2 separate regions of the Homo sapiens genome follow, and region 1 is linked to region 2. The links come from fine-mapping of genetic effects on gene expression. Tissue or cell type: aorta. Region 2 holds a variant in brackets; the other region holds the start of a gene. All regions are shown on one strand. Distances are from middle to middle.

What was found. PIP is the estimated chance that this variant, and not a neighbour inherited with it, causes the effect.
Region 1: it holds the start of DMTN, and the variant in region 2 is fine-mapped to the expression of DMTN in aorta (GTEx, PIP above 0.99). The same link has a PIP of 0.9 or more in atrial appendage.

The regions. Positions count from the first base shown.
Region 1 is chr8:22,055,734-22,058,410 of GRCh38, reverse strand. DMTN (dematin actin binding protein) reads right to left here and starts at 1,597. Exons shown (of 16, transcript NM_001387751.1): 1 at 1,275-1,597. RefSeq lists an enhancer at 1-479.
Region 2 is chr8:22,093,166-22,095,842 of GRCh38, reverse strand. It overlaps FHIP2B (FHF complex subunit HOOK interacting protein 2B), which reads right to left. Exons shown (of 17, transcript NM_022749.7): 2 at 1,325-1,403. Among named protein-coding and RNA genes, the nearest start is that of FHIP2B, 5.4 kb to the right of the region's middle. RefSeq lists an enhancer at 1,328-1,828. The variant G/A (reference allele first, on the strand shown) is at 1,149.

The DNA.
Region 1 (2,677 bases), 37 kb after region 2:
AGCTGGTCCTGTTGTACAAGTGGGACTGGCAGAGCTGGGGGAGATGCAGCCTCAATTCAGCTTTCTGGATCCCAGGGCCTCCCTGTTCCAGTCCCACAACACCCAGGAGCTCTAGGAGAGGGATTCTGCAGACATCCACCCACGGGTGGACAACCTCACCCAGGAGTCTAACGCCTGACCACAGAGAGGCCGGCAGCACGGACACAAGATGGACAGGTGGGCACAGGCAGAAGCGCCCGCGCTGAAACCGTTGCAGGACGCATGCACGCGGGGAGACTCCGAAGCCCTGTGTGCCAGCTCATGCCCCCACTCTCCCATCGAGGCCCCCTCACTGTGACACATGGTGCTGCCAACACCCGCTCACACCCACCCACCGGTCCTCTCCCTGGCATCCATCCCAGAGTAGTGCACGTGTACAGCAACATACACAGAGCCCTCCACTTACCCAGCTCTGGAGGCCTTCCCTGGGCTCCCCATTCCCACAGCCCAACTGCCTTCCTTGTCTTGGACCTGTCCCTGCTCCCCTGACTCTCACAACCAGGCAACTGGTCCCTGGAAGGGACACACTGGGTGTGTCTGCCCAAGAAAGGGGGCTGGACCTGCTAGGCCCTGAGGGACAGAGCTAGGGAGGGGGAGCCCCAGAACCCTGTGGGGGCTGCATGTCTGCTCAGCCCTGGCCCCTTCAAGCACCCCAGCGGCGGGCACAGGGGGAGTACTGGGCTTGGGCTTGCAGCTGCGCCCTGCCACAGCCTCACTCTTCACTCAGCCCCACCCCAGCCTGGCCAGCCACTGGCTGGGGGCAGGCTCTCCTCCCACTCCCCCTAAAAAGCAGGCTCCAAACAAACAGCCTCAGGCCCCTAAATGTACTGCTCCAACCCCCAGAGCATGTGGAGTGGTTTTGGGGAGGCCAGCGGGCCAGTATTCAGCAGAGAGGGAATGCTCCCCTGCCCACCCCGTGCCCCCACAGTCCATCCCTTCCATTGCTGGCCTGCTCAGCTAGGTAGGCCAGGCAGAGATGCTGGCAAAGAGGGGATTGGGCTGGGAGCAGTTCTCATCCTTGGGATGAGAACACCCCAGGCCCTCTTCCCCAGATCAGAAGGTTCCATTAGATCAGGCCCAGCTGGTCCCAGGGGCCGGCCCATCCTCCCACTGAACAGGGCCCACAGTGGGCTCCCCCCAGATACCCTGCTGCCACCCAAAGCCTGGCTCGCCAGCAAGCGCTGTGGCCCAGAGTGCCCACAGAGGGGAGGAGAGGCGGAGACCCTGCCACCTACCTCTTCCCAGACAGTGTGGCCCAGACGCTCTGAGGCCACAGAGGCCCGAGAGGCGTAGGCCAGATCCACGGGCTGTCACTTCCCCCAGGAGCCTAGGTAATAGGTGTCTCTTCCAGGAACCCCGCGGCGCTTCCCCGGAGCACAAATAACAGGAAAAATGCCGGCTTAGGGTGGGTGGGCGGGGTGGGAGCTGGCGAAGGAGGGGAGCTGGTCTCGGCTGAGCGGTCTGATCTCCCCTCTGGGCCCCCACCCTCCTTGCCCCCACCCTGCTTCTCTGCAACGCACGGCCGCCTGGATCCCCCGGTGCTGGGGAGTCCTCGTCTGGGGGCGGGAGGGCGGGCGGGCTGCTGGCTCCCCCACGCCCTCCCCGCGCCCTCCCCACTTCCAGCTGATAGCGTGTGGCTGGCAAGGGTGTGTGTGTGGATGTGCGCGCTCTTCCACCAGCGCTGCAGCTCAATCCATTTCAAACAAGAGGAGCATTAACCCAGCGTCATGACAAAGCAGAATCAGCCAGCACTGTCCTCTCCCTTTCCCACACCGCAGTCTGCAGCACTCACACGCACACACACACCCACACGCACCCAGAGCCCCTCAGCCTCCTCCTAAACAGCCAGAGTTCAAGTTGCTGTGGGCGGTGGGTCGAGGGAGGGGGCTACTGATGACCCAGGCGGACAATGCCTGCTTTCTCCAGGCACCTGCACCTCCTACCCTATTCATGACCACCCCACCATCTGACAGCAGCAACTGAGGCCTCTGGGGCCCAGCCTCTTGAGGTGGGGGTGCAGGCACAGGCCAGAATTGGTTACCCAAGGATGAGCTCTCTCCTGGGAGGGTAGAATGGAGGGATGCAACCAGGTCCTCAGTACTGAGACTTGAGCTGGCCCCTCAGTAACCTGAATCCCCTGGGAACTCCAATGGGATGCAGCAGAGAGAGAGAAGGACCCCATCTCTCCCTAGGGTGGCTTCATGAAAAAGGAGCTTCCTGCCTGGTAACCCCTGGGTCCCAGCACAGAATTTACAGGCATGTGCCTTCCCTGTCTCTAGCAAAGCCTCAACCACCCCAGGAGCCTCTCATTGGCCTTTCGGGCCCCCTGGGCAGGATGGGGAAGGACAACAAGCCTTGCCCTCGACCCTCGCCCTGGCCCCAATGTCCTCTCCACCTCCACACCGCAGACTTGCCTACCTAGGCAGCCCTCACCGTTGCCCTGGCAACCCTGCCCCCAGCCGGTCAGCTGATGGTATCAGCTGTTGTTGGGGAAATCTAGAATCTGGGGAGGGGGCTCTGGGGTGTCTGAATGGAGAAGCACAGGGGGAGGGGCTTGAGGGAAGAGGCCAGGAGGGGACAGAAAGTATCTGGCTGGTGGGGACAGAGAGGACAGTAACCTGAGGGATGGGCTCCAGAG
Region 2 (2,677 bases):
CACCACCTTCAGGTCTGACCCAGTCCTGCTCCCTGTACCAACGCCCTGACGGGGAAGCTACTTAGTGGGGGCTTTTGCAGTCAGAGTCTCAGTGTGTGTTTTAAAGAAAGTTCTGGTGCTTCAGGGCTAGACTTGGAGCACCCCCTAGCTTTCCTTTAAGGAACAGGAGCTTGAGTAGGGCGGCCTGCCCCACGCACTTCCAACCCTTCTGGTCTAGGGACCATTCTGGAAATGAAAGGGCTGGATGGGGGAAGCCCCAGGTGAATTTCAGCCAGTTCTGATCTGATCTTACTGAGCTGGTGGACTGAGGCTCTCCTTCAAGAGATCTTTAACCTGAAGAGATAGGTTCAGAACCAGGGGTGCGCTTTTCCCCCCCAGGGAACATGAGGCAATGTCTGGAGACCTTCCTGGTTGTCCCAATTCGGGGGTGGGGTGTGCTACTGGCACCTAGTGGGTAGAGGCCAGAATTACTGCTGCACATCCCACACCGCCCAGGACAGCCCCGCGCAGGGAAGGCTCCAGGTCCAATGCCAACTGTGCCAAGATTGAGAAACCTGGTCTAGCAGAACCCTCAGAGGGTCCCACAGATTTCTGAATTTCCTGGGCTGGCCCGGGCTGGAAAGAAAGCCTGTAGGAAAGGTGTGGGCTGGGATCAAGCCCCAGTATGAACTCCAGGAAGGGAAAAGTGAGGGATGCAGGATATGGTTACCTGGCAACCAGTCCGTATCCACCCATGGCAGCCTCATGACTGCAGAGCAGCCACTCAGATGCCATCCCCTCAGTGAGCGGTCCTGATGGGACCAGGTGCCAAGGCTTTGGCTCTTTGGGGTGTCAGCTTGGAGAGAGGGACCCAGGCATGTTACCCACCTTGGTTTTCGTTCTCCTCCTACCCCAGATCTCTACAAGGACATTGCCCCTAAGCTGGCTCAGGGGAAAGGGGAATTTATTAAATTCTTTTCTTTTGATCATTAAATCCTAGGCACAAGCACCTGGGGCCTGAAGGTCTGGAGCTGGAAGCTGGGGGAAGTGCAGCCACCTCTTCCTTGCAGAGTCAGGCCAGTGAGACCCCCAACCAGGCTACTCCTTCCTCACACAGCCTCTTTCCAAAAGGTCAGAGTGGGACCGGCAGCTAAATCATCAGGAGTGGA[G/A]TGGCCCAGGGCTCTGGGTCTTCTGTCTGTCTGGTTCTCTGTCTCCGTGAACTCGGCTCCAATTCTGAACGACTGGGCAGGTTACCTTTCCCAGGACACCTGAATGGTGACACTCTGCACACTCCTTCCTCCCCGCTCCCTCCAGGGTCCCTGGGCTGGGGAGGGCCAGGCCGCACCTGTGCTCTCGATGTAGTAGTGCGTGATGCCCTTCCAGTGCTCCACGAAGGCCTGCAGCAGGTCAATGCTGGGCTCGCGCTGCGGAGGGCAGACACACAACCTCAGTGGGGGCCACAAAGGCCAGGGAGCCCCTGCCCGCATGGGAACAGATATTCTGAGTGTCAGGTTCATGCTAGGCCTCCTCATGAGGAGGCACCCTGCTCCCTGGCTTTCAAAGGGAGGAATAACACATTTCCTCCAGGACACACTGTCATCTTGCCAAGGATCTCCTGACAGGCACTTCTCCCTAGATACCCCTCCCTCCTGGAAATGCTGTTTTCTTGCTGTATGTCACAATCCTGTCCTGTCTCTGTCCTGGAGGTGCTAAGAATGTTGCTGGGGGAAACAGACACAGATTATTTCAACACAGCATGGTTACGCTACAGTAGAGGCACATAGAGGAACACGGGAGCGCAGTCCCCCAAAGAAAAGCAAAATGATACAGATCGAAAATGTGGCAAAGGTCAGGTGCAGTGGCTCACGCCTGTAAGCCCAACAGTTTGTGAGGCAAAGGTGGGCAGACGGCTCGAGTCCAGGAGTTTAAACCAGCCTCGGCAACATGATGAAGCTCTGTCTCTATAAACAATTTAAAAACTAGCAGGACGTGGTGGTGTCTGCCTATAGTCCCAGCTACTTGGGAGGCTGGGGTGCGAGGATCACCTGAGCCCAGGGAGGTCAAGGCTTCAGTGAATTGTGATCGCAGCGCTGCACTCCAGCCTAGGTGACAAGGTGAGACCCTATCTCAAAAAAAAAAAAAAAAAAAAAAAAAAGACAAAGCTTTTCCATTCCTCTCAATCTGAGAGTCTATGAAAATCTGTTCAAGACCACCACAGGCTCTGTTCAGCCGGAAGGGTAGGTAACATTAGCATGATATTAACAATGTGCCTTCCTTATAACATGCTTACATGCTTTCATCTTGTGTCCAAAGCCTGAGCCTGCACAACCCCAACTCCTCAGCCAGTGCTGTTCTCGTTTCCTCCTCTACCGGCTCCTTCTATCAAGCCCTGGAAAATTCTGGTTCTGCTCTGGGCAAGCCCCTAACCTCCCCCTTTTCCATGAGTGCTCTCTCCATCTCTACACCATGGCTGATACTGGCCTTGCACTGAGAACAATCACTTTCCCTGAAAACTTCTCAAAAACAACAACAACAACAACAACAACACCATTCCTTCGCTTTTCTTGCAGAGTAAATGTTTTCAGGAAAAAAAGAATTCTAATCATCCCTCCCCACAGCTGTGCATTTCTGCCTCTAGGTCTTTGCTGGGGCCACTCCTCTGCCCAAGGTGCTCTGTATCCCACTAACTGTCTGGATC